Regions from separate parts of the Homo sapiens genome. Here all the other regions are reported to be linked to region 3. Evidence: microRNA targets listed by miRTarBase, many of them from high-throughput screens and not tested one by one. Region 3 holds a microRNA gene; each other region holds the end of a gene's coding sequence.
The links. Region 3 holds the annotated microRNA hsa-miR-4438 (CACAGGCUUAGAAAAGACAGU, at 1,376-1,396, shown strand). A microRNA usually pairs through its seed, bases 2 to 8, with sites in the 3' UTR of a target mRNA and lowers its output. Matches are read on the target gene's strand: a 7mer-m8 pairs with bases 2 to 8, a 7mer-A1 pairs with bases 2 to 7 and ends in A, and an 8mer does both.

Region 1: miRTarBase lists FBXO6 as a target of hsa-miR-4438. Seed matches in the 3' UTR shown: 7mer-A1 at 2,262-2,268 and 7mer-A1 at 2,128-2,134.
Region 2: the mRNA of GPR137B is a reported target of hsa-miR-4438. The part of its 3' UTR that is shown has no 7-base or 8-base seed match.

What each region holds. Positions count from the first base shown.
Region 1 is chr1:11,673,311-11,676,310 of GRCh38, reverse strand. FBXO6 (F-box protein 6) reads right to left here. Exons shown (of 6, transcript NM_018438.6): 5 at 2,899-3,000; 6 at 1,957-2,696. The coding sequence ends at 2,460. MAD2L2 (mitotic arrest deficient 2 like 2) reads left to right here. Exons shown (of 9, transcript NM_006341.4): 6 at 171-265; 7 at 580-653; 8 at 1,137-1,229; 9 at 1,495-1,831. The coding sequence ends at 1,536. Among named protein-coding and RNA genes, the nearest start is that of MAD2L2, 6.3 kb to the left of the region's middle.
Region 2 is chr1:236,207,902-236,210,901 of GRCh38, reverse strand. GPR137B (G protein-coupled receptor 137B) reads right to left here. Exons shown (of 7, transcript NM_003272.4): 7 at 1,995-2,852. The coding sequence ends at 2,744. Among named protein-coding and RNA genes, the nearest start is that of GPR137B, 67 kb to the right of the region's middle.
Region 3 is chr2:213,756,747-213,760,098 of GRCh38, forward strand. MIR4438 (microRNA 4438) reads left to right here and starts at 1,321; the gene lies at 1,321-1,413. All of the region lies in intron 10 of SPAG16 (sperm associated antigen 16), which reads left to right.

The sequences.
Region 1 (3,000 bases), not on the chromosome of region 3:
ACTCCCTTGCTGGTTTAATTGTGTGGACCGGATAGGGAGCTGGGTCCTAGGCATGCAGCACTCTCACAGGCACTGGAGGGGGTCTTGTACCCCAGGTCTGCATCCAGGCTTGATGCCTGTGGTGGAGGGGAGGGCGCCAGTGTGATGGGAAGACCTCCTCTCACTCCCAGCTCAGACTCGCTGTTGTCTCATGTGGAGCAGCTGCTCCGGGCCTTCATCCTGAAGATCAGCGTGTGCGATGCCGTCCTGGACCACAACCCCCCAGGTGTGTCCACTCCCCACCCTCTCTTCCCTTGGCATTTCCATGGTTATCTCGGGTTGGTCTGTGTTCCCAGGTCCATGTTTGGCTGTTCTGAGACTCATCTCTTCCTAACCCTGAGAGTCCACCTCCTCTGGGAAGCTTCCCTGATTGATTCTACCTGGCTTCCATCTCCCTATTGACTGGGGCTTTTCTTAGCACTTGCTTTGCCATCTGCTCTGGGGGTGCTGCTGAGCCAGCAAGGGAAGTGGGAAGAGGCTGGGCCCAGTGGCTGGCACCAGGGCGGTGGGGGAGCCTCCACCAACCTCTTGCCTCTCCAGGCTGTACCTTCACAGTCCTGGTGCACACGAGAGAAGCCGCCACTCGCAACATGGAGAAGATCCAGGTCATCAAGGTGAGATGAGATGGGTCTGGGTCTGGGCGCAGGCTCTAGAAACGTGATGTCGCAGTTCCAGGCGGGCAGGGGCACTGCCTGTGGCCAGCCACCCATTACATTGGTGTGGCAGCGCCTGGCACCCAGCAGGTCCTCAGGCCTGTCCACTGCTCCATCTGGGCACTTGGGGCAGTGAGGAGCCCAGGTGGAGCCACCTACTGGGGCCCCCAGCTCATCCTGGCTCTTCTGAAGTGGGGGCTCTCCAGGGAGGGGTCCTAGCCCACCAGGTTCAGCGTTGGTGCCTGGAGCCTGTTCGTCACTTGGGTTCTATGGACTTGGCCTCTGTGGGGGATGGGGGCGGTCCTGGGGTCTGCATCACCAACAGCTTCCTAGTGATTCTGAGGCTCAGGTTGGAGGCCCCTGGTCTGGAGTGGGAGGGACAGCAAAGTGAGGGCAGGCCAGGGCCCAGCCCCGTCACCCCCCTGACCTTTGTCTCCTCCCTAGGATTTCCCCTGGATCCTGGCGGATGAGCAGGATGTCCACATGCATGACCCCCGGCTGATACCACTAAAAACCATGACGTCGGACATTTTAAAGGTGAGCTTCGTGGGGACCCGGGAAGCTTTATTTAGGGGCTGCTTAACGAAGTGAGGCCCGGTGCTGAGGCCTTACTAGAGGGCTTGCGGGAGAGAACGGGGGAGTGCCTGGTGGAGGGCTCCTCCCATCTCTACTCTTCTCCACCATGGCTATGGCCACGAGGCCCCACCTGTGGTGGAGGTCTGCCCACCAGGGGCTTCTGTGTCCTCCAGCAGGGATGCCCTGGCTGTCTTGCTGACTGTGGCTGTTTGCTTGTGTCCGTCAGATGCAGCTTTACGTGGAAGAGCGCGCTCATAAAGGCAGCTGAGGGGGCACCTGCCACCCCACTGATGCCCAAACTGTCAGACTTTGGGGGATCCCCGCCTAGGGCAGTGCTGCATGGCTGCCCTGATTCCAAGTGCTCTTATCGCCTCTGTGTGTGGATCGCCCGCCCCAGCCCGGGGCCGCTCAGGTCTGCTTGGAGGATGCCTCCCCCAGGAGGGCAGTGAGGGATGCCGCAACCTCGACTTCTCAGCCTCCTGGGGTTCCGCCGGCCAACACTGTCTGTCTCAAATACTGTGCTGTGAGTTGTTTCAATAAAGGGGCCCCAAGGGCTGGGCTGAGCTGAGCCATCATTAACTGGAGTGGGAGGGACAGGTATGGCCAGGGTAACCTGGGAGAGGGGCTGCTTCTCCACCAAAATGCCAGGGACCCCCTCTCCCCACTCCTAAAACCAACCCCAGGCTGGTTTTACTGAAAACATTTATTTTTTATTTATTTATTATTATTATTATTTTATGAGCCAGAGTCTCGCTCTGTCACCCAGGCTGGAGTGCAGTGGCGTGATCTCGGCTCACTGCAAGCTCTGCCTTCCGGGTTCACGCCATTCTTCTGCATCAGCCTCCCGAGTAGCTGGGACTACAGGCGCCCGCCACCACGCCCGGCTAATTTTTTGTATTTTTAGTAGAGACAGGGTTTCACCGTGTTGGCCAGGATGGTCTCTATCTCCTGACCTCGTGATCCACCTGCCTCGGTCTCCCAAAGTGCTGGGATTACAGGCGTGAGCCACAGTGCCCGGCCTGAAAACATTTATTACAACAAAACGTCAGAGCTATGTGACAGTAAGTTACCACAAGCTGGTAGGGTTGAACCGGGGCAGGAGTCGCTGGTACAGGGACCTCACTGCCCACCCCATGCTCAGCTCCTGCCTGGAGGAACCTCTGGCTGACCCAGACACAGGATGGACAGCTGTCAGAAAATCTGGACAACAGCTCGGTAGGGCGATTGGGCAGCCTCCTCCTGTCCATGCTTCTGCCCAGGCTGAGCCTCGGAGGAGGCCTGGTTCCTGGTCATCTTGGGGCTGACGACAATGCTGCTGTTGGTGACTCGGGGCCCATACCAGCCTGCCCAGTACTGGGTGTCCCTGCCCCCATGCTGGAAGAGGATGTAGCGGACACCCCGGGGGTAGTCTGAGAAGGTGTAGGAGACCTGTTGGGAGGAAGGGAGAGGAAGTGACCACCGGGACGGGGGAGGGGAAGGCAGGAGCCAGGTCCTCTAAGAGAGCTGCCCAGGCTGGAAGGCAACAGCTCCAGGCCAGCAGGGGCACCCTGGGCCCTGAGGCTGCCCTTTGCTTCCTGCCATCCTGGCCCTGGGAGGAGTGGGTAGAGAGAGCAAGTGGGTGAGGCCTCACCTCTGTCCATGTGGCATTGTTCCACTGTTGGATGGTCACAGGTGGGGGCTCGAAGGAGGCCAACACGAAGTAGTCAGCCGAGGCCAGCTGCACTTTGAGTTG
Region 2 (3,000 bases), not on the chromosome of region 3:
CCCAGAAACGTTCACATGAAACTTTTCAGTGTTCCATCAGACTTAGCTAAATGATGGCACAAAATTTTCAGTGATTCCCTCTTCCCCATATACTTCAACTTTCTAATCATCAGGGCTTTAATTTCATCGTGTTGCTTTAAAACAAGAGGACATTTGGGTATTTTGCAACCAGTAATCACCATTCCTTTTCCTCTTAGCATTTAATATTCCACATAAGTAGTTTTTTTGTTTTGTTTTGTTTTGTTTTGAGACCGAGTCTTGCTCTGTTGCCCAGGCTGGAGTGCAGTGGCGCAATGTCCGCTCACTGCAAGCTCCGCCTCCTGGGTTCACACCATTCTTCTGCCTCAGCCTTCCAAGTAGCTGGGACTACAGGCACCCGCCACCACGCCCGGCTAATTTTTTGTATTTTTAGTATAGACGGGCTTTCACCGTGTTAGCCAGGATGGTCTAGATCTCCTGACCTTGTGATCCTCCCGCCTCGGCCTCCCAAAGTGCTGGGATACAGGCGTGAGCCACCGCGCCCAGCCAGAAGTAGTTTTGTTAGTGTACCTAGTAGAACAAGTAAATTAGAAAGCCAAAGGGAATTTTAATTTTCCTTACTAAGAAGGAAGGAGAGTTTGAGTAATCAATCATAGTTTTTTTGTATTCCGTGTTTACAACACTTCTAGAAATTTTAGCATTACATTTTTAAAAGGGGAATGAGAAAAATAGGCACTTAGAACATTTTTATACTATCTAACAAAAATAATAGTTCAAATAAATCCCAGTAGCTTCATCATAAAAGTAGGCTGACTTCTCTCACTTAATGCTGGGTATTCCAATTTTTCTGCCAGTAACAACAGAACTGTGTTTACATATTACAGGATGAGTATGATATTAGTGATAGTCTTATCACTATTTTTAAAAATATATCTTCCCTTAGCTGACCTAATACTGAAGGACTTCAGGACTTTCTGAAGATGTAACTTAAAGGAGTTTAAAACATGCTGAGTCTGCCTTTAAATTAACTATTAGTAATACAGTGTGACCACAATAATCTGTTAAAGCTATTTAGAATAATAGCTTATAATGTGTTAAGGCAACTTGAATAACAGTGTAGGGTTCACTTCAGTATAGACTTTTCCCTGATAACTACTTTAAATGCTATGTTACCCCAATTTTTTCATGTACTAGAAGACAAGAATGTTGTTATGTAGGATTATGCAGAGTGAAGGTGTTCTATACACATGAAAAGCCCAATGATGATCAATTTGAAACTTGAGATCCCAATTTTAAATACTACCAAAACAATAGTAGACTTCATCTGTGAAATCAATGCCCAGAGATCAGTTATTCCTGAAGATCAAAATGAGAGGAGTCATTTGAAATGGGTTGCATCATGTAGTAGGACTTGTTAATATAAGTTCCTTTTCATTGAACCTTCCCTCTGTCCCCAGATGAGCATTCCTAGGCAGAGAAGAAACGTGCCTTGTTTCTGGTAACAGTACTTCCTCTAGAACCTTATCTCTGTTTTATAGAAAAGCAGAGCATTTAGCCTCCCAATAGGCAGTTTTATGGCTCCAGGATATATATAGTGGAGTTTTTAGAATGGCACTTCCGGTCTGGGAGGCAGTACTTCATAACCTGTTTTTTACTTAAATGAAAGATGACTTACAAGGAATTGTCTGGAACATGGCTGACAGGCATCATGCTACAGCATATTGCAGTGCTATTGCCATTTTTAAATGTGCAGCTTCCAATAGGCTCTTTACAGAGCTATTTAGAAGGGCATTATTTTAAATATAGTTGGAGATTACGGAAAAAACTATTAGGATTCCACATAGTCTTAGCTCAACGGCTTGGGGTATTTGTTATTAATGCCCTTTATGGACCCTCTTATTTTCTCCTTGAATGTAATGAACATTCAGTGAGTTCGGAAAGGGGTGTATTCTTGATGTGGCCCTGAGGTAATGCATATTAGATTTCATTAGGCTGAAAAAAAACTATGCAGAATCTGTGAACATAGCAGAGGAGGTTTAATAGGATAAGTCAGCTACATTTTTAATGTTATCAACTTATCATTAATGTGTATACATTAGCGCCCTACTGAAAGGAAGTACCAGTCTTTGGGCAAAACTTAAGAGATTCCTTGAGGAACCTACGGCCTGAACCTTAAAAAAAAAATCTCTAAAGACCTTACAGTCTGCTGCTTTACCATTTCATTTTAATTATCAACACTGGAGTTGCAATTGGCTAAGTTGTCAACTGTATTTTAGGAGTCTACCAATGTGGCACTCAGAATCGGAGTGACCATCAGTGACCTAAAGAGGTAAGATTTGTGGAATACTTTAGTCCAAAAGCTTTAAAAAACTATTAGACCATATATTCTATATTTTTAAAGTGAATTATGCATAAAAGTCTGTGCAAACTACAACATGATTGCAGTAACATTCTCAAGAAAAAAAAACCCTAGTATACTTTAGCATTATTATTTAAGTTATACAAAATACATCTTTATAAAAGTACAGATTTTCTTTAAAAAGTTTAAATTATACCCACTGAAATAGCAAGGCTCCCTCTTTAGTACTAAAATAAGGGTTTATCAGTCTACATTATTGCTTATTCCTATGGGGCCATTGGAAACCTGTAACAAATAAAAATCAAGTTCTATTTCTTAAGGAAAAGTGCCCTAAAAATTCAGCTGTCACTATGCTTTTCTGAAGCTTTTCATCTGAGGAATCGTCCATAAAACTGTTAACTGATGCTACCCAAGGCTTGGTTTGTCAGGATCCAAAGTTGAGTCTTGCAAAGTTCCTGCTTGTGCCAGGAAGCTGTTAGTTTGTTGTCCCCAATCATAGTAATCTGGAGCAAAACTTAAAAAGAAAAAAATATTTCAGTGACTTGAAACATTATATAGTATGTATGACATAGTCTAGTTTAGGTAGACAGAGCTGAGATTTTTGTGTAAACTATAGATAACTCTAAAGTTCTTTTAAATGGCTCTTAAAGTCCATTTTCCCA
Region 3 (3,352 bases):
TATTTAAAAAGACACTCAAATAGTTTTTTTTTATATGAAGAAAGTAAAGCTTTGACACTGAAATTAAATGATGTAATAACTGTTATATTCAGCTAATATCTCAATGATGGCTTTGAGGCAGTTGATAGTAGATAGCTTTTTTAAAGAAGTGTTTTTGAATGTTTAGCATATGAAACCCTTATGGTGTTGTCTTTATAGAGCAAAGAGGGAATAAAGAAATGGAATGTAAAAAATCCTAAATATTCCACATAAAAAAGCTTACTAGAATTAATAAATGTATTCAGCAAAGTTGCAGGACACAAAATCAATATGCAAATATCAGTTGTGATTTCATATACTAACATAAATCTGAAACGGAAATTTTTAAAAATTGGGTTAAAATAGCATCAAAAATACATAGAAATATAAACTTAACAGGAGACTAAAGACTTGTTCTCTGAAAACTACAAACATTTCTAAAGAAAATAAAGATGGTAATAAATAGACATATATATTCATGAATTAGATGACTTAATATTGTTGTCCATACTACTTAAAGCTATCCACAGGTTAAATACCATCCATATCAAAATACCCATAGCTGTTTTTTTTTTCTGAAATAGAAAAAGCAATTCTAAAATTCATATGCAACCGCAGAGAACCAAAAAGAGCCCAAACAATCTAAAGAACAAGCTGGAGGTCCTGCACTTCCTGACTTCAAAGGATATTACAAAATTACAGTAGTTAAAACATTATGGAGAAATAGTTATAGAAATATGGTGGAGTAGGAAGCACCAGGAATCTGTCTTCCCACCTAGAGAACAATTGTACTGGCAGAATCTGTCTGATATATAACTATTTTGGATTTTTGACATCTACTAAAGGCTTGCAACTTCTAGGGGAAAGCTTGCATGGCGAATTATGATTAATTTCAGTCAATTTCAGCACTTAACCACAGTAGTAGCTACCCATTTCCCACAGTCACCCCTGTAGCAGGCAGCTGTGCACATGTTACTGGAGCAGTCTGCACAGAGCATGCAGGAACCAGAGTGGGCAAAAAAAGGACCTGTCATCCAAATATCGGCAATCTTTGCTCTGATTGCTGATTGCTGTTTCTGGTCACAAAGATGGACGCAAAGAGGTGAGTGGTTATTGTTGCACCTCTATCCATTATTGCAAGCCCCTCCCTGCTGGCTGAAGTGACTTCCAGAAGATTAAAAGGGCCAGTGCCCTTCTCCTACTTTATTTTTCTGTTTTTCCCCCTTTGACAGCTAGACATTAAAAAGTAGGGCATTCAAAGTAACTGCACATATGGTGACAATCAGAAAATGACTAAGTTACTAAGTGTAAACTTAAGGACTGTCTTTTCTAAGCCTGTGCCTTGCCTTTCCTTTGGCACAGGCTTAGAAAAGACAGTCTTTAAGTTTACACTTCAGACTGATTCTTGGCACAGAGATAGCCTACAACAGAATCCTCTTATGACAATATAAAAAGCAAAATCATTGACTGAAGTAACCGCAAACTCTCAGTAAGAGGGAGAATCTAATTTTTAGAGTTACTATGTTATTAGATCCAAAATCACAATTCATACAAAAAATTAAGAAACTATGTCTTGTCCAAAGGAAAATATGAAATCCCTAAAATGACTTGATGGTGGATCTGCTACAGAGGGACTTTAAAATAATTGTGTTAAATGATCAAAGAACTACAGGAAGATATAGAGAAAGTCAAGAAAATGATATATGAACAAAATGAAAAAAATTCAATGGATAGGAAACCTCACAAGAAGTTAAAAAAAATTGGGAGCTGAAAAGTACAACAACTTAAATAAAAAATTTACTAGAGCGATTCAAAGGAAGATTTGAGCAAGCAAAGGAAACAGTCAGTAAACTTGAAGATAGGACAATGGAAATCAAGGAACAGAAGGAAAAAGAATTGAAAAAAGTAAACAGAGTCTAAGGGACCTGTGTGACACAATCAAGGAGTCACAGGAGGAGAGGAGAAAGAGAAGAGAAAACTTGAAGAAACAACGGATAGAACCTTTCCAAATCTGATAAAAGACATTAATATAAACATTCAAGAAATCCAACAGAATTCAAGGAAGATGAACTCAAAAAGACATAAACTGAAATACATTATAATCAAAGCTTTAAAAGGTGGAGACAAAGATAGAATCTTAAAAGCAGCAGAAAAACATCAATATATTACTTATAAGGAATAATCAGTAAGATTATCAGTATATTTCTCACCAGAAACGTTGCAGGCCAGAAGGCAGTGGGCTGACATTCGAAGTGCTAAAGAAAAACAAAAACAGAAAACATTATCAAACAAGAATCTTATATCCAGCCAAACTGTCCTTAAAGTGAGGGCGAAATTAAGACATCCCCAGGAAAACAACAGTTGGGAGAGCTTGTTACCATTGGACCTGACTTGCAAGAAATCCTCCTGCAGAGTGAAATGAGAAGACACTAGACAGTAACTTGAAGTTGTGTAAAGAAATAAAGATCTTAATAAAGGAAAATACATAGAAAATTATAAAAGCTTATATTATTGTAACAATACTTTTTAACTGCACTTTTCGTGTTCTACATGCTTTAAGAGGTTAATATATATATATTTAAATTTGTATAAAAGTTCATATTATGCTTTGTAACTCCAATTTTGTTTTGTACATAATTTAAGAGACTAATGAATTTAAAATACTTACATGTTTATATTTTTGTATAATACATAAAGATATAATTTTGTGACATCAAAAATTGAGAGGGTGGGGGAATGGAGCTTTTGAAGGAGCCGAGTTTTTATATATTATTGCAGTTATGGTGGTACAAATTTAAATTAGAATGTTATATATGCAGGATCTAAAATATAATCCCTATGGTAACCACCAAGAAAATAGCTATATACAAGGAAATGAGAAAGAAATTTAAGCAAATCACTAAAGAAAATAAAATAGACAACTAAATATAAAAGATAGTAATGCAGGAAATGTAGGGAAACATCTATAAGCTATAACGAATTCAAATAGTGGCTGGGCGCAGTGGCTCACACCTGCAATCCCTGCGCTTTGGGAGGCCGAGGTGGGTGGATCATGAAGTCAGGAGATCGAAACCATCCTGGCCAACATGGTGAAACCCTGTCTCTACTAAAAATACAAAAAATAGCTAGGTGTGGTGGCACATGCCTATAGTCCCAGATACTCATGAGGCTGAGGGAGGAGAATCACTTGAACCCAGGAGGCGGAGGCTGCAGTGATCCAAGATTGTGCCATGGCACTCCATCCTGGGTGACAAAGCAAGACTCTGTCTCAAAAAAAGAAAAAAAAAAGAATTCAAAAATAGTAAAATGACAGAAGTAGCTTCCTTCTTTTCAG